Homo sapiens: one gene and its partners. The protein of the gene in region 1 purifies or fractionates together with the protein of each later gene. This does not show direct contact. Each region holds a gene or a part of one and is shown in the gene's direction. Other genes may lie near its edges.

The links.
Region 2: the proteins of TMEM171 (region 1) and TPCN1 purify together in Homo sapiens (affinity purification with mass spectrometry; 4 studies listed by BioGRID and IntAct, with this or other methods). This does not show direct contact.
Region 3: the proteins of TMEM171 (region 1) and CHAMP1 purify together in Homo sapiens (affinity purification with mass spectrometry; 3 studies listed by BioGRID and IntAct, with this or other methods). This does not show direct contact.

Annotation. Positions count from the first base shown.
Region 1 is NC_000005.10:73,115,758-73,123,588, forward strand, and holds the start of TMEM171 (transmembrane protein 171), read left to right. Parts: upstream 1-4,817; 5' UTR 4,818-4,939; intron 4,940-7,548; 5' UTR 7,549-7,616; coding exon 7,617-7,831. Other genes in the region: uncharacterized protein LOC124901001, read right to left, coding at 3,971-4,672.
Region 2 is NC_000012.12:113,287,441-113,294,472, forward strand, and holds part of TPCN1 (two pore channel protein 1), read left to right. Parts: intron 1-722; coding exon 723-794; exon of another isoform or gene 795-1,054; coding exon of another isoform or gene 1,055-1,058; exon of another isoform or gene 1,059-1,086; intron 1,087-1,156; exon of another isoform or gene 1,157-1,219; intron 1,220-1,317; coding exon 1,318-1,407; intron 1,408-2,687; coding exon 2,688-2,803; intron 2,804-3,511; coding exon 3,512-3,558; intron 3,559-4,082; exon of another isoform or gene 4,083-4,168; coding exon 4,169-4,237; intron 4,238-4,433; coding exon 4,434-4,518; intron 4,519-5,493; coding exon 5,494-5,633; intron 5,634-5,828; coding exon 5,829-5,909; intron 5,910-7,032. UniProt on the Homo sapiens protein: Intracellular channel initially characterized as a non-selective Ca(2+)-permeable channel activated by NAADP (nicotinic acid adenine dinucleotide phosphate), it is also a voltage-gated highly-selective Na(+) channel activated directly by PI(3,5)P2 (phosphatidylinositol 3,5-bisphosphate) that senses pH changes and confers electrical excitability to organelles.
Region 3 is NC_000013.11:114,324,480-114,327,831, forward strand, and holds the end of CHAMP1 (chromosome alignment-maintaining phosphoprotein 1), read left to right. Parts: coding exon 1-1,802; 3' UTR 1,803-2,843; downstream 2,844-3,352. UniProt on the Homo sapiens protein: Required for proper alignment of chromosomes at metaphase and their accurate segregation during mitosis. Involved in the maintenance of spindle microtubules attachment to the kinetochore during sister chromatid biorientation.

The DNA of each region.
Region 1 (7,831 bases):
AAGGCTAGCAGCACTCAGGCTGAGCTGTTATTAACTGTGCAAAATCAACAGCACCATCTCACGCCATAAAATGACTCTGCAAAAGATTAGCCTTTGCACTAGGATCAGCTAAGGGAGCCAGTCTAAACCCTTAATTCAAGCTTTCCAAATTAGTCAGCCTCTACTTGCACTCCTGATATGTCTCTGAAGCCCCTGGGTCTAAGTCCGACCTGGGGGTTAGGGAGGAGGAAAATATCCCAGGGACTTTGGTACACCCTTTTCAGGGTTATACAGCTGGATGGGGCCCAGGTTGGTTCAGAGGAGTCATTGGGAGTCCTGGAAATATGTGTTGAAACATGGACCCAAGACTGAGCGCTCAAGAATAAATTCCTATAAACCAAGCCCAGCTGGGGCTCAGAAAACATCAGAAATTGGAAGCAGGGAAATGTGTGCTTCTGGGTGCTAAGATTAATTTGGGGCAGAATTAGAAAGAGACCAAAAGAGAAAAGAGACCTAGAAGTTGGCAGACTTGATTAGCTGATTGTCTTTCTGCCATCTTATGAATTCTGAAAAATGGTGCCACTGAATTCTGCAGGTCAATCCACTTGCCCTGAGTTTCTTCTCAGGGTTGGCAGTGCCCTGGGAAGAAATACGTGGCCTGTCTTGTTGAAGTGAAAGATATGTGTTCCTTAGGGCACTGTTTTGGGAACAGAGCAGCAGAAGCCCCCTGCTCTGGGTGAAACTCATGCCTCCCAGCCGCACTAGCTGTGCTCTGCACCCCAGAAACATCTGAAAACTGCACTTGGTTGGCACCAGCCCCTCCCTTGCTTTGTGTGTTTAGAACCCTCCAAAGGACTAATTGTTACTCTTCCAGAGAGGGAGCCCAGCCTCCTCAATTTTGTAATGTCACTCACAGACCACAGGAAAGTATTCCTTCCGAATTCCTGAACTCCAAGCCTCCATATTCAATTGCCTACTCAGCTTCTCTACTCGGATGTCTAATGGACAAAATTAACATGTCCCCAAATGGACTCTGAAGCTCCTCCTCTCAAACTTGTCCCACTCTTAGGATTCCCCATCTTGCTCATGCCAGAACCATTCTTCCACTTGCTCAGATCCAAAACCTTGGAATCAAAACCCACATGTGGTTCATGGAAAATCCCATTGACTCTATCTTCAAGATATATCCAAAGTCTCATCCCTTTCATCACCTTCATACACAAGCTACAGACATAACTCCTGGGTTGTTACCACAGCCTCCTAACTGGCCTCTTCCCATCCATCCTGGCTCCTCCTTGGGCTATTCTTACTGCAACAGCCACCAATTTCTTTTTTAAAAGAAATCAGATCACATCACTGTCAAAGCTCATCACATCAGCTCAAAAACCATTCAAAGGCTTCCCACCTACTTAAAGGCCCTGCACAACCTGGTGCCCTTGGCCCTGCACATGCCTTTCCTCTCTGACCTCCTCTCCTACTCTCCCCCTTGCTCACCAACTGCAGCCACCCTGGCCTCTTGCTCTCCTTTGAATATGCTAATATGTGTGTTCCTACCTCAGGGCCTTTGCACCTGTGGTTACTTCTGCCTGAAGCACTCTTCCCTACTTCCCACAAAAAATCACGAACTATGCTTACAAATTCTTACTCTTCCCTACAAGAGGTGGCACCTAATCCCATTCCCCTTGACTTTGTGACTCAATTCTAAGGACCAGAATAAAGAGAAGTGATGGTATGGAAGTGCAGAGCCTCGTCAGAAAAGGCACCACAGCTTCCCCTTTGTTTGCTCTCCCTTGGATCACTCACGTGAGGGGAGGCTGGGTGGAGAAATCCACATAGTGAGGAACTGAGGCCTCCTGCCAATAGCCCTGTGAATGTGCCACCTTGGCAGCAGATCCTCCAGCCCCAGTCCAGCCTTCAGATGACCACAGCCCTGGCCAACTGCTAGACTGCAGCCTCTGAGAGGCTCAGCCAGAAGTACCCAGCTAAGCCACTTGCAGTTTCTGACCCTGATCAGAAACCCTGAGAATACATTTTTGCTGTTTCAAACTTCAAAGTTTTGGGGTAAGTTGTTATGCAATAATAGATCATTGATACACTTGCTTCCTCATTCCCTTCAAGTTTTTGCTGCAATCTCACCTTCTCAGAGATGCCTTCCTTAACTCCCCTATTTAAAATGGGGTGCTCCCCAGTCCCCATCTGTGATTTATTGTTCTCCCTGGCACTCAATCACTTTCTAATTCTCTGTATAACTTACATATTTTATTGCCTTTCTCCTCAATAAAATACAAGTTCCGTGTTTTATTGGTAGTTGGTAAATCTGTGCTGGCTAAATACATGAACACATGCCTCTGCTTTATGCTTCTACAGTCACTGAATTCGAGGTTTTTAATCTTGTTCTGATGCTGTTTTTCTAAGGATTCGGTCTGGCTTTTATCTTTTTCACTACCACACAGGCCAGGGAAGACCACTAGATAGTGACCAGGCCACGCAGCTTCTCTCCTAAGGCTAGGTGGGCTACAAAGATAAGTACCTCAAAGGCTGGTGGGTATGTCTTTCATACATAATCGATGATCAATTTCCAAGGAGTTTAATTTAGTCAAACAGGCTCTCATAGACACAAACAGTGAGAACAGCAGATATACCAAGTGGAGGCTAATCTGATTGTCCTTGGTGCCAGGATATTCAAGTCTGTCATGGGTGGTGAGCCTGCAGTCATGTGGCACCAGAGGGGCAGCTGTATCAACAGGCCCCTTGCAGGCCTGCACATGACATGGCCAGAGATTCAGTTTCAAATAAGGGGGAAGGGAAGAATGAGTAGGGAAAGGACAAGGAAACCCTTTTGCACAATGAAGAGTTGTTCACAGGCCTGTGTCAGAGGGGACAAATCCTATAATGAGGGCCTGAGTTCTTAGAAAGCCAGTGCCTGCTGTTGTACAATCCACTCTTGGGTATCTGCCCATTCGCTGGACATGCTTTGGTGCCCTTCCAGAAGGTGGTATACCTTGACACTTGGACCAGGAAGGATATCTCCACCCCAAACATAGATTACTGCAATGTCCTTGGGACACAGTGCCTGTATTGTTATAATAATCTAAACGTGCTTGGCATCACAAGGCCATGAGGGCGTTTTCTGGGTTCACAGCATGGTGTGTTCTCTGAGTGACAGGTGTGCTGCGGGAGAAACACTGAATGGTCAGCGCATCTGCATCTGGCTCAGGCCTTCTCTGCATGTCAACCAGCTGCAGAGGTTACTTTACCTCTGTCAGCCTGGACCTCAGTTTCCTCAACTGACAAATGACTGTTTTTCTCAGTCTCCTGTCCCCTGCTGCCTCCAACCTTTTCTGAACTGCTGGAGAGATGTAGCAAAGAACCACAAAGCAAGGGGTCGTGAGTGTTGGCATTGTTCATTTCGACAGTAATCAGGGCTGTTAGTTATGGCGGGGATTTACAGAGGTCGGGCACCCTGGCTATGAAAAAGTCCACCTTTGGCCACCCAGGCAAGTGCCCCACCAAATTCCAATGGCAAGAACTTGTCCGTTCTGCCTCCCTGGTGAACCCTAAAGCCCAGGTAACCCCCTCCCCTCTTTACCTCTCTGACTGGTTCTTTAAGTCTCTTCTCACCTCTGATGATTAGCTAAGCCTGCTTCATACTTTACCTTCAGTGAGCATGACCAGGAATCTCTTGTTGTATCAGGTAGGTAAAGTGCTTGCTTGCACATTGAAAAGTTTCATCCATTGGCCTTAACTCTAGATAGGGTTTCAGGCAAGGCAGACAGGAAGCTGAGAAGAGAAGGCAGGGCTGGGAAGTCCCCGTGGCTCAGGGCACCTCTGCGCTTGGGCAGAGAACCCTTGACTCACCTTCCACCGTGCCCTGACCCCTGGTGTGGAAACTAGCACAGTTGGATCCGTATCACGTGTCACGGGGCTGGTTACAAATAGCACAGGGATTGGCAAACTCATCCCGAAACTCCCGGTTCAAGGGCAGGGAAAGTTACCAGTTTAATTCCGGCAGATCATTAGTGGTGGAGAACCAGGAAGGGGGTTCTATCGCAAAGGAGGGCTGTGCGCAGACACGTGGGTGCGGGAGGGGCAGAGCTGGTCCGGCGCGGGGCTTGCCGCGTCTCGGCCTCAGTCTCGGAGCCAGGACCTCAGGCCTGAATGGCTGGGTGTGGAGGGCCCTTGTCTCACATTCTGTAGAGCGCACGTCGTCCCGTGACCTGGTGGCTCCATATTCGATGGGGAGCTCGCAGCGAGTCGCTTCCCTCTGTAACCCCACTCCAGGTCTCCAGAGCAGTAGGAGGGCCACAGGGCTGCTGGGTGTAGTCGCCCCGGACCTCGCGGTGGCCAAGGCCAAGGCGGCCGGGGCACGGTACCCTGTTCGGCCTGGGCCGCAACCACGAAGGAGGCGGTGGAGGCGGGGGCCGGCGCTTCCTCCGCGCCCCCCACGCCGCCGCTCTCTCGCGCCCCTATAGAACTGGGCCTCAGGCCTCGAGGGGGAGCGGGCCTCGGCGGGCGGGGCGCACAGTTCCGCCAGCCGGCGGGGGCATCTCAACTCGCCGGCCCCGCCAGGTGTGCGGGCCAGGCAGCCGTGGAAGGTGCCCATTTCTCCCAGATTCCTCGCGCGCACGGCCACGAGCGCGGAGGCTGCCAAACCCGCCAGCCCTGGGTTCCGAAGCCGCCCCTGGCTCTCCATTCCCTCGCGGGCGCGCCCCGGGCCCCCAGTGGCGGCCAGCTCCCACCGGTCGCTCCTGCACTGCCCTGCCCTGCCCTCCCCGGGCCGCCGCGCCCGCGCAGCACCGCCTCCTTCTCTAAATACTGCCGGGTCCGCCCTCCGCACCAGGACGCGCGGTGGGTAGGGTGCAGGGCGGCCGGCGCAGCCGAGGCCGCGTGCGGAGGCGGACGCCGCGCCCAGCCAGTGCCCACAGCAGCGCGGTCAGCCAGGCGCCGGACCCAGCTTCAGGTAAGCTGCCCCGGCCCGCGCGCCTGCGCCGGCGGCGGCGGGTCGGGCGCTGAGCTGTGCGGCCAGGCTGGGCGCGGGGAGCCGCGGCAGCGCGGAGGCGCTGGGTATCCGAGCCCAACCTGCGTCCCTGCGAGCCCCTCCGGCTGTTGCTTGCGCTCGGGCTCCCTAAAAGCCGCAAACCGATTTCGCACAGAAGGCATTTGCCTCTCGTTTCGTTCCCCAAACGCACCATAGCTTTGGACGTGGAGAGGTGCTGTGAATTTTGGAAATGTCTTTTGGAAAACCAATAGGAGTGTTGGAGAGGGGAGTTTGGCTTTGGGGAGTTTAAGTGTAGGGTGGTGTTTGGAAAAGGTTTCATTGCGAGTGAATGTGGGTGTCTTTGTATCCGTTTGTGAGTGCATCTGTGGGAGAAGGAGAGAGAGAGAGTATTTCCACACTATTATGGATCAGAGGTGAACACTCAGCCAGGTGCTCCGTCCACTAGTCCACGGACAAGAAACTACAGATTCAGTTTTGGGCTTCTATTTACTGGTGTTTGGGAATTTGCCTTAAGACAGTTGAAGCCTTGTGACTCACTGCAAAGTTGACTATACTGGGAATAAATGAATTCCTGATAGGACTTTGCAGCCGAGAATCACCCTTCTCTTTCTTGTCTCCGAAACCGCAAAAGAGATTGCATGATTCAGGAAAAAAATTAAAACAACAACAATAACAAAAAACCAATATATATAGGTTTCAGGACTCTCCATCGTTTCATTCCACTGAGAGTTTTGGAATGTACTCCCTGTAGGATAAATGAGGACTACTGTATACTCAATATGAAATTCTTATTCACTGCAGGATGTTACTGACTTAATAAAAAATGGGAAGATTAAAAAATTAGTGCAATGCTTTGTCTCAGCTTAACTGCATCTGTATATCAAGTTTTTCCAAGTTTGAAATGAAAGCTTTTTTCCCTCCTATATTTCCTTTTTTTCTCCAACTTCCTTCTGATTCTATCATACTTTTTCCTGGAAAAGTTTTTCCCAGTGTAAGATTGCCTGTTTGCTTTCTTTACCTAAACTGACCTTCCCTCAGTGTGATTTTGGTTTGTCAAGATCATCTTGGGCTTAGGGCCTCAGTCTTGAGTTCCTTCATGGGACCATGGATGTGAGCGGCACAAAATATTTTAAAAGTTTTCTTTCCTTGGGCAGGTGAAAATAGTCTTCACGATTTTGGATTGTCTTTGCAATTGCAGGACCTGACTTACGGGGTCCTGGTAAAATATCCCATTCATTGGAGTAAAATAAGATAACGAGATAATTAGGTCAGCTCTGTGTAAGCTAGACAACTCTTTAACAACCACTTGGCATATTTAATATATTATACCCCTGAAGTACAGGGCTTGGGTGATTTTCTGGAAGGTGCTTTCTCACTTGATTCCACTTATACTATTCTTTCAAAGCCAAGTTCCCCCCTTCCACCCATTTTGTGCTTTATAACTAGCAGTTTTATTGGCTGCTTGTTTTTTAACTGAGTCTCAACCTCTTTGTGGAAGTAGGTGACACCATGGAGGAGGGTGAGTGAGAGGCCACACCAGCCTTTGGGTACCTGTCCACTCTGAAAATTGAGCTCCTGTTGACCTGCTGTGCAACACTTTCCAGGGTCATCCCAGATCCAAGCAACTGGGTCACCAGTCTGTGCTTGTTGAGAACCCAAGAACCATTTTGTTTTGTTTTGTTTTGTTTTTGGCAGGGTCTCACTCTGTTGCCCAGGCTGGAGAGTAGTGGCGTGATCTTGGCTCACTGCAACCTCCAGCTCCTGGGCTCAAGCAATCCTCCCACCTCAGCCTACCAAGTAGCTGGGACCACAGGCACCATGCCTGGCTAAAGTTTGTATTTTTAGCAGAGATGGGGTTTTGCTATGTCACCCAGGCTGGTCTCGAACTCCTGAGCTCAAGCAATCTGCCTGCCTCTGCCTCCCAAAGTGCTGGGATTACAGGCGCAAGCCACCACGCCTGGCCTCAAGAACCACATTTTGATAGAATCAACTTAAAAGTCCACCAAACCCACTGTGTTCCTGAACAGACTTCTTATTCTATTGAAATTGCTGAAATTGGGTCTTTTGTAGATGTAGCCTTAGAATAAAACATGAAATGGAAAGCTGCTGTAGTCTAAAACAGGAAATGGAAAGTTAGTTACTGAACTGACTTGAAAATGCTGAGAGCAGCTATGATGAAAAGTGGGGCATTTGCAATCAGAAAGAATCCCTGTGGTTCTTCCCTCATTCACCAGTGCTTTTTTCCCCAGGGAAATGAGTTTGTAAGACTCAGAAAAGGAAATGCCACACCCAGCTACTTTTGTTCTTTCAGTTTTTAAAAAAGATACCCTTAGATGTGTAGTAATTTAATTTCCTGTTTTGAATATCTTGTAAAATTACATATTTAGGAGTTTCTGAATGCTAGTTTATCTGACTCATAAACCAACTCATTGTTCTACAGCTTATCAGTTGTATAAAGTTCTACCCCCAAGGCCTCATTGTGGTGTGATTTCAGAAATGATCAGCAAAAAACCAGGGTGGTTCTGGAACACCTGTGCCCACGTTAATTTGGTGTTTGGTTGTGTTTGCAGAGCTGCTGAAATCTTGGAGGGAAGAAAACACATCCCACCCTGCCTCCGGGAAGGGGCCTCTCCTGGACATGTCTCCTGCAGCTGCTGCTGAGCCAGATGGGGACCAGCAGGACAGACACGTCAGCAAACTCATCTTCTGCTTCTTTGTCTTCGGCGCCGTCTTGTTGTGTGTGGGAGTCCTGCTCTCCATCTTTGGGTTCCAGGCATGCCAATATAAGCCCCTCCCAGACTGCCCCATGGTGCTCAAGGTGGCGGGGCCTGCATGTGCCGTGGTTGGGCTTGG
Region 2 (7,032 bases), on another chromosome or scaffold:
CCCTGCGTGCTTTTCTGGCTCAGCGTCTTATGGAGAAAAACCCTCGTGTGGGTCCCACTGGTTTCCCAGGGACACTGGAGAAAGTCCCAGACGAGCCTGCCCCACTGACGGTGTCTCTTCCTAATGAGGGGTCCCGAGGTCCTGTGCCCTCAGAGCCTGGGCTTGCCTCCTGACCCTCCAGCTGCAACCCCATCCACGTCCGCCCCATCCTCTCCCAAGGCGGGACAGGCGGGGCAGGTGCGGGGAGGGGTGGTGGCGTCTATGGAGGAAAAGCCTACCCCCTTGGCGTGTGGGGGTGGCCTGGGGCTGCTCCTGAGTGTCCGCCTCCGTCCCGCCCCCTGCCACCCTTCTTCACTGGTGAGCTCCATTGCCCCCGCTCCCCGGGGCACATGGGCTTCTCCCCGCTCTTTCCCAGGAGCAAGGCCTTGCTCCTGTCTGAGCCTGCAGCTCTACTGCAAGGAGATGTGGCCTGGCCCTGCTCCTCTTCGTGGAAGGACCCCGCCCAGCCGGTGTCCTGGGGCTGCCACCATCCCTTCCCTCATGCATGAATCACCTGAGCCCAGCTCAGGGTTGGTGGCGCCCAAGGGAGTGGACGCAGGTGGAGGAGAGGCCCTCACCTGTCTTCACCGCATGGCGTGTGGAAGGCGGGGCCGGCATGTTCTGAGGGCGGGGGCTGAGGCGTGCACCTGTGTGTGGAGGTGACGGGTGTCCTCCTCGCTCAGGTTGTTTAAGTTGAAGGAGCGCTACCGCAACGTGCTGGACACCATGTTCGAGCTGCTGCCCCGGATGGCCAGGTACTGCCAGCCCCCACCCTGGCCTGCAGGTCCAGGTGCCGTGTGGCAGTGCCCCGTGGGGGCGGGAGCCGAGTGGCAGTCGGGGGAAAGGAGTTCCACAAAGGACTGCAATCGAGGGCCTGACGGGGCTCCAAGGAGCCTGGAATCTTGACCACCACAGGTCTCCTGGGCACCATTTTTCTCCACTGACCTGTCTGACATATTTAGTAGGGAGGGCAGGGAGCTGTCAACTCGCTTACCACCTGTGTCTACATTCACAGGTAAGGGGTCACCTGTGAGTCTACCTTCACAGGTAAGGGGTGAATCTCTGGGAAAGGGGCATTTGTTCATAGCGTCCTGACTTGAGCTGTTTTTCACCCCAGAGCTGCCCCACGAGGCCCCTTCCCCGCAGGCACTTTCCAGTTGGTGAACCGACCAGGGGCATGGCCCTGCAGTCAGCCCCACGGGTCCGAGGAGGCCGGGGCTGCAGAGGAGCCGTTCCCTCCTGCCGGCCCCGCGTCACCCTGCCCCTGTCGCCCCACAGCCTGGGCCTCACCCTGCTCATCTTTTACTACTCCTTCGCCATCGTGGGCATGGAGTTCTTCTGCGGGATCGTCTTCCCCAACTGCTGCAAGTGAGTAGGCCCCACCCAGCCCCAGGCAGCCTGCATTTCCCGGGCAGAGGGCTGGCCAGGGCCAGGATTGGTGTCCTTGTGGCCTTGGGGTCCTCGGGGATGTTCCTGTCTAAGCAACCACCTTGCTTTGCTTTCAGGGCTTAGTTGAGTGCAGTGAGCTAAATGAGGGGCCTGGACTCGGGGTCCCTGTTTCTCCATCCCCCAGGCAGGGTTGGGAGCTGTCAGCTCACCCTCTGCCGAGGGCTGGAGGCCACCCCCACAGTAGCCTGGGTCCCAAGGTCAAGTCCCATGGCTTCCTCCCACTTCTCTCCTGGAGTGGCTGGGGACCTGGGCCAAGACCAGTCTTCTAGGGACAGCATCGTAGGATAAGACAGACGGACACGTGCAGGAAGGTCATGGTGCTCAGGGATGGGGAGCAGAGAGTGAAATCTCCCATGAGCACTCCCTTTCTCCTGAGCCGCCACAGTGAAATCACTGCACACTGCCATTCATTCATCCTCAATTCAGAGAGTCCTCTTACATTTGGTCTTTACAGCCTCAAGCACCGATGAAGAAACAGTTTTACAAAGACACTGGTAGCTTTGAGACCCAGTTTGAGTGTCAAGCTTGGTCTGGAACCAGAAGCCTATAGCAGTGGGTCCCAGACTTTAGAGCCCATTGCAGTCACCAGGGAGCTTAGTGCAAGCTCCAGACCTCACTCTTGTGTCTGATGCATGCGTGTGGGAGGAGGCTCCCTGGTGGCCCAAGCACTAGACTTTTATAAACATTAGCATGGATATTAACAGAACAGCCATAAAAGATTGGAAGGAAAGTGGCAAATAAGAGCTCCTCAAAACAGGGCCAACCTTTTCAAATACTTGCTCAGGCCAAGTATTGGGGAAGCCCCAGTAGGGAATTCCTTCCCTGGGACTGTGGCCTAGTGTCCAGCCTCAAGAGCAGATCCTAGATGGGGCAGGTGCAGAGGAGGCCCTTGCCTCTCCTCCCTCCCCTGCAAGCAACGGTGAGAGAGAAGGCCCTGCCTGCAGCAGACAACTTCCAGGTGACAGAGGTGGGTCAGGCTGGCCAGGGGATCCCGCCAAGCCCAGCAGGCAGGAATAGCCAAGGGCATTCCTTCAGCAGGGACCCAGGCATGAGGTGGAGAGGGTTAGGCAGGAAACCAGGCTGCGGGCAGAACAGAAGGATCCTTGGCCAGAACTCGGTTTGTTTCAGACTTCTGTCCTCTCTGGAGGTGACTGATCGCCTTGTGACCCTCCCTCCTTTCTCCCTTGTGCTCCGGCCAGCACGAGTACAGTGGCAGATGCCTACCGCTGGCGCAACCACACCGTGGGCAACAGGACCGTGGTGGAGGAAGGCTACTATTATCTCAATAATTTTGACAACATCCTCAACAGCTTTGGTGAGTGGGAAAAATCACAGGGGGCACATTCCCTGGGGACCCCACCCTTGTCACCCTTGTCACCACGGGTCCCAGAGGTGGTGTAGCAAGTGTCTGGGCCACACTTTCTGGAAGCCTCCCTGGCCCAGGTGGAGGACTTGGTCTGCCCAGCTTTGGCAGTACAGTCCAGGCTGGATCCTGGAGCTCACTCAGTTGCCTGATTCCACTCTTTCCTGATATTTTCTCAGTACCGGGGAGGACAAGAGTTGCAAGCCTTAGCTGGGCGGGGTCCCCTCATCACAGTGCCACTTGCAGAATGGGACCCAGCCACACCACTGCTGCTGCAGCTGCACTGCCCCCTGGCTCAGACTGCACACAGCCCTCTGCCCACTCCCATGAAGAGGCGAACACAGCCAAACCGCCTCTCCAGAAAAAGGGTGTGCCCCCATGACACCCCAGATCTGCACCCAGTAAGATCCAGATAGTCTGATGTGGCACAGGCTGCTGAGGCAGAGGGTGTGTTCTCTTGGGGGCAGGCCATGATGTCCTGTGGAGCCAGCGCCCTAGGAGTGCCTTGCCTGGTCTTTCCTGGAGCTCACAACCCAAGCGGTCATATGGTGACCCTCTCATCTTAGCACATGGCACCCAGGATAGGTGGCAAGAGGCCACTTGAAATTGACTTTGAAGTGGGGTCTCATCAGGATGCTTCTTTCTCTCTTCCCTCGGCAGTGACCCTGTTTGAGCTCACAGTTGTCAACAACTGGTACATCATCATGGTAAGAGCTCGGGCAGCTCTGGGGGTATCTTCCCGCCAGCCCTGGGGTCGGCCCTGGGTCTCCCCCAACCCAGAGTATATAATTCTTCCCGTAGCTTGCAGGGCTGGGGGTCTTGAGTCATGCTGTGTTGGTGTTCAGTGGGGAGGCCACAGGATGGCTGGGCCCCAGGAGCCACCCCTCCCAGTGTTGGCTGGACTCGGCTGTTACTCCCATCTCCCTGCATGTCCCCAGCAGCCAGGAGATGCCACTTAGACTCTGGGTCTCTGTCCTGTCTCGCCCACTGTAGAGATGACTTTTCCCTCTAGTGACAAAGTGGCGAGCATTGCTGATCTCTTTATTCCATTCCTTAAACTTTCCCGACTCCCAGCCCTACTGGGATAAAGGCTGCCCTGGTTCTGGATCCAGTCGTCCAGGGGAGTGGCCAGGGCTCCTTCAGCAGTCAGGAATTAGTGTTAGGCCCAGAGGGGCAAGCTTCCTCTCCTCCATCTCTCACAACCAGCCACAAATCACGGTGGGGTCTGCGAAGAGCCGGGGCCATGGAGCAGCCTGTGTAGACGGGGACCTGCCCTGCATGGGCACCCCCTCACTGGCTGCTTCCCTTGGTCTCCAGGAAGGCGTCACCTCTCAGACCTCCCACTGGAGCCGCCTCTACTTCATGACCTTTTACATTGTGACCATGGTAGGTCCCGGACCACAGAACGCTCTTTGTCCTTCGTCTTCCACATCACCAGCTGCCCCTGCTCTTCAGCCTGCAGCGTCAGGGAGTGGGGCTGGGTCCCATCTGGCCGGACTCTGTTGGGCGTGGGCTGCGCAGCCACGGACACCTACCCACCCTCCTCCCCTGCCTCTGCCCCTCCCTCCCTATCCCTGGCCAGGTGGTGATGACGATCATTGTCGCCTTTATCCTCGAGGCCTTCGTCTTCCGAATGAACTACAGCCGCAAGAACCAGGACTCGGAAGGTCTGTGCAGGGATGATGCCTTGGGCATTTGATATCTGCCGCCTACCCAGCTCTGTCTGTCTGTCTGGGTGGCTGTCCAGCCAGCCATCAGGCTGTCATTTTTCTGCTGTCTGGCTGTCCAGCTTATCTATCTGGCTTGTCTTTCTAGATCTTGTATTTGCATTGATTTTCAAATATTTAATGTCAGAAAACGTAATCTAACTTTAAAATAAGACAGAGCATGTCATAGTTGGAGAAAAATCAAGAAGTAGAGAAAGGCTTATGTGGCAGCAGCAGCCCCTGCCCTGCCTTTCCCTCCCGTCCTCCAGAGGCTTCTCCTTCTTGGCTATTTCTTCTGTTAGTCATCTCCACGTTTCTCAATAATAGGTTCACACTACGGTTCTTGATTTAAATGGTGTAAATATTGCTTATGGCACAGGCGAATCGTATTCCTGCTGCAACTGGATGGTGCTGGCTTTAGTGACTGCCTCACTCTTCCCAGATTGCACAGCTTTCTGTGTGCTGACCCTCCCTTCTTCCCAAATTCTCCATCAAAACTGTCTGCACTTGATCTCTTGAGCCCAGGAGGTCAAGACTGCAGTGAGCCATGATCACACCACTGCACTCCAGCCTGGGCAGCGGAGTGAGACCCTGTCTCTTAAAAGAAACAGAAAACCCTGTGCCCACACTTGTTACCTCTCATCCTCAGATCTCTGTGCTATCAGACCATCTGACCATTTTCTCTGTGCTTAGAGGCCCCTTCCTGAAACCCTCTGGCCCTGTAACAGCTGCCAGCTAGACCTGCGCTCCTGACATCACAGCAGAGGGAGGGGAAGGGAAAGGAGGGCCAACGAGGAGAGCAGGACACCAATGCAGTGTCGGTTTAGAGAGAGAACCTTAAGACCCCCTGCGGAAGGGGGCAAGGAGGTACGAGACCCAGCCAGGTTGGCAGCTGCAGCCCCGGGCCCTTCCCACACCTGCCTTCCATCCCTGCAGTTGATGGTGGCATCACCCTTGAGAAGGAAATCTCCAAAGAAGAGCTGGTTGCCGTCCTGGAGCTCTACCGGGAGGCACGGGGGGCCTCCTCGGATGTCACCAGGCTGCTGGAGACCCTCTCCCAGATGGAGAGATACCAGGTGAGGAGCCCAGGCCCTGGTCCGAAGGAGGGAGGCAGGTTTCAGTGTGGGTGGCATAATCCCTTCCCTCAGATATTGGTAACATTTTGAGTGACACAGTTGCAAAAGCCAGAGAAGTGGGAGACGCCAACTGTGGCACCAGGGGTGGGACCTGAATATCTGCAGCCGAGCCCTGCAGCCTCTGCTCTTCCTTAGCAACATTCCATGGTGTTTCTGGGACGGCGATCAAGGACCAAGAGCGACCTGAGCCTGAAGATGTACCAGGAGGAGATCCAGGTAGGAGCCTGGCCGACCACGCTGCGAATCCTCCCCCAAGCTATGTCCTGGGAGGGGCAGGGAGCTGCTCTCTGGCCCTCTGAGTAGAGGGAGAAGGCTGGTAGAGAGATGCAGACCGTCCATCGGGACCACTGCTGGGGTTGTGTGGGACCTGAGCGGGGCTCACTTAGCCTTGAACCCTTGACTCGTGCCCAGCAGAGGCAGCTCTCCAGCCTGCCTGCCGCCATATGTCCCTGCCCCTTATGAATTCTCCAGAACCTCCTCTCCATCTCTTACTCTGAGTCAGCTGCAAACTCAAACATGTGTACTAAGAAACACAGTGAGCAAAGAGGAAAGAGCGGCGACCGTGGTGAACTGGCAAGGATGTCCCTGTCCAAAGGAGACAGTCTCCTCCCAGCTCCAGGATGTGCCTGTCCAAAGGGGACACAGCCTCCTCCCAGCCCCAGCGAGTGCTGCCCAATAGGAAGAAGGCCCTACTGCGGTCGGGCTGCTTGGTGTTTTGTTTTGAGATGGAGTCTCGCTCTGTCTCCCAGGCTGGAGTGCAGCAGCACGATCTAGGCTCACTGCAACCTCCGCCTCCTGGGTTCAAGCGATTCTCCTGCCTCAGCCTCCCGAGTAGCTGGGATTACAGGCACACGCCACCACACCTGGCTAATTTTTGTATATTTAGTGGAGACGGGGTTTCACCATGTTGGCCAGGCTGGGAGTGCTTGGGATTTTTCATAATTGGGTGTTTTTTGTTTTGTTTTGTTTTAGAGATGGTATCGCTCTGTCACCTGGGCTGGAGTCCAGTGGCGTGATCATAGCTCACTGTAGCCTCCAACCCCTGGGCTCAAGTGATCCTCCCCACTCAGCCTACCCAAGCAGCTGGAACTACAGGTGTGCACTGTGACACCCTAATTACCTTATTTTTGTAGCAGTGAGGTCTTGCTGGGGTCTCAAACTCCTGGTCTCAAGCAATTCTTCCACCTTGGCTTCTAATTTAAGAAAAGGCAGGCCAGGCATGGTGGCTCATGCCTGTAATCCCAGCACTTTGGGAGGCCAAGGCAGGCGGATCACTTGATGCCAGGAGCTCGAGACCAGCCTGGCCAACATGGTGAAACCCTGTCTCTACTAAAATTAC
Region 3 (3,352 bases), on another chromosome or scaffold:
TATCTCCTGAGTCAGTAAAGGCTACTCTTAGTAATCCCAAACCCCAGAAGCAGTCTCATTTCCCGGAAACATTGGGGCCACCTTCAGCCTCATCTCCAGAGTCACCAGTTCTAGCTGCTTCCCCAGAACCTTGGGGACCATCCCCAGCTGCATCTCCAGAATCTCGGAAGTCAGCCCGGACTACCTCCCCTGAGCCAAGGAAGCCATCCCCTTCAGAGTCTCCTGAACCTTGGAAGCCGTTCCCTGCTGTCTCCCCAGAGCCTAGGAGACCAGCCCCCGCTGTGTCACCAGGCTCTTGGAAACCAGGGCCACCTGGGTCCCCTAGGCCTTGGAAATCCAATCCTTCAGCATCATCAGGACCTTGGAAGCCAGCTAAACCTGCTCCATCTGTGTCTCCTGGACCTTGGAAACCAATTCCTTCTGTATCTCCTGGACCTTGGAAACCAACTCCATCTGTGTCTTCTGCATCCTGGAAATCTTCATCAGTCTCACCCAGCTCCTGGAAGTCTCCCCCTGCATCTCCTGAGTCATGGAAGTCTGGCCCACCAGAACTCCGAAAGACAGCTCCCACGTTGTCTCCTGAACATTGGAAGGCAGTTCCCCCAGTGTCTCCAGAGCTTCGCAAACCCGGCCCACCACTATCCCCAGAGATCCGTAGTCCAGCAGGATCTCCAGAGCTCAGAAAACCCTCAGGGTCACCAGATCTTTGGAAGCTTTCTCCTGATCAGCGGAAAACTTCTCCTGCTTCACTTGATTTCCCTGAGTCCCAGAAAAGTTCCCGTGGTGGTTCTCCTGATCTCTGGAAGTCTTCCTTTTTTATTGAGCCTCAGAAACCTGTCTTCCCTGAGACCCGAAAACCAGGTCCTTCTGGGCCATCTGAGTCCCCCAAAGCAGCCTCAGATATCTGGAAGCCTGTTCTCTCTATCGATACTGAGCCTAGAAAACCTGCCCTGTTTCCCGAGCCTGCCAAAACAGCCCCTCCTGCTTCTCCAGAAGCACGCAAACGTGCCCTTTTTCCAGAGCCCCGGAAGCATGCCCTTTTCCCTGAACTCCCCAAATCTGCTCTATTCTCAGAATCACAGAAGGCTGTTGAGCTTGGTGATGAACTACAAATAGATGCCATAGATGATCAAAAATGTGATATTTTGGTTCAGGAAGAACTTCTAGCTTCACCTAAGAAACTCTTAGAAGATACTTTATTTCCTTCCTCAAAGAAGCTCAAGAAAGACAACCAAGAGAGCTCAGACGCTGAGCTTAGTAGTAGTGAGTACATAAAAACAGATTTGGATGCGATGGATATTAAGGGCCAGGAATCAAGCAGTGATCAAGAGCAGGTTGATGTGGAATCCATTGATTTTAGCAAAGAGAACAAAATGGACATGACTAGTCCAGAGCAGTCTAGAAATGTGCTACAGTTTACTGAAGAAAAAGAAGCTTTTATCTCTGAAGAGGAGATTGCAAAATACATGAAGCGTGGAAAAGGAAAGTATTATTGCAAAATTTGTTGCTGTCGTGCTATGAAAAAAGGTGCTGTTTTGCATCATTTGGTTAATAAGCATAATGTTCATAGCCCTTACAAATGCACAATCTGTGGAAAGGCTTTTCTTTTGGAATCTCTCCTTAAAAATCATGTAGCAGCCCATGGGCAAAGTTTACTTAAATGTCCACGTTGTAATTTTGAATCAAATTTCCCAAGAGGTTTTAAGAAACATTTAACTCATTGTCAAAGCCGGCATAATGAAGAGGCAAATAAAAAGCTAATGGAAGCTCTTGAACCGCCACTGGAGGAGCAGCAAATTTGATAACACAGTGTGAATATTTGTTCTACAAAGGTGTTTGTTGGAACCATTCTTTGTAAGTATAGCTTATCAGATAGCATAGTTGGATCAGTAGATGACATGTATGGTGTACCGTGTTTCACTGTCTCAGTTGTGTTACTAAGAATGAGCATTTGATCATTTTTTTCTGGTCTCTGTCTATGTGACTATCTTGTAAGTCAATAAATTTCTGTATAGTCCAGATGGATTAAACTTCTCATTTCTTTTAAATATGTATGAATAATAATACAAGGAAGTAGGCATTCCATTTAATAATCAAGAGCAAGTTGTACTCAAAGCATTCAGTTAAAGTGTATCTGTGTGTGGAACTAATTTCAGACAATAGAAAATATTAGTTGAAATGTTTAAGAATTAGGCATGAAAAATAAATTTGAGAAATTTTGTTTCCTTACATGTATTTTTAAATCATAAGAGTTATTTTCTATCTGATGTAAAATTAGTTTATAAATCTTAATCAGCTTCTAGATGTTTATTAGCTTTTATGTCATGAAATGTTGGAGTCTCAGGGTTGCTGATTTTCTGCTAATGGGAAAAATTGACTAAGTCTTTAAAATAGTTTGCAGCCTTCTCCCACAGGAGACAAGTGAAAGATAAGTGTGATTTTAGATCTTTCTTGTCCATAGTTGTTTTCAGTGGAGTCTTCCATTCTGTATCTTACCCTAAGATCTGGTTCTTCCCTCCCCATCCCCACCCCCCACCCACCGCCTGCCAGCTCACACTAATAGATGATTCTTAATTGCCAAATGTGTTAGAGTTTGTATATCCTACTCCTGGGCCTTACATGTCGCCTGTTGGGGCTTAAGACCAGGTTGATAAGTAGGAACTGAAAGTCTTCCAGATTCACAGTAGAAAATTTTATAGACATTTCTGTTAAAGAAATATATCGATTTTATGTTTTTCAATTATGTTACTGTAAATACCTTGTACCTGTTCATGGATTATTTTATTCTAAAATATTTTGTCAAATGTGTATCAACCAAATTAAAAAGAAAGGTTTTCATGTCAGCAACATCTTCATGTGTGTTTTCTTTTGTGTAGTTTTCATTGTATGATATACAGATCCATTATTTCCATGTTTTCAACATAGTTTTCTTATCTGGAGCAGCATTTTCTTAGCTGTGTTTTCTCCAAGTTCTGTGGTCAAGTAAGTTAGGGGAATGCGTGTATAGGGAGGACTCTGTGTCAAAAACCTCATCCTTTCATATGAAAGGTTTTTTAATTCCAGTGGTTGCCTATCCTGCCTGCCTCTAAACAGTGTGAGGCATTTAATCTCAAAGCATTCTGATGTGTAGCCAGGATTGAGATGCTGTACTGGGTTTATTTTAGCTATTCCCAGACATTTTTTTAACAAGGAACAGTTTTGTCCTAGTTCCCCACCCGCTGGCTTCCCTATTAATATGCCCGTTGGGATAGCTTAACAATATTTAGTAATATGGTTTGGCTCTGTGTCCACACTCAAATCTCTCTCTTTTTATTTTTGTTTTTTATTTTGAGACCGATCCTTGCTGTGTCAC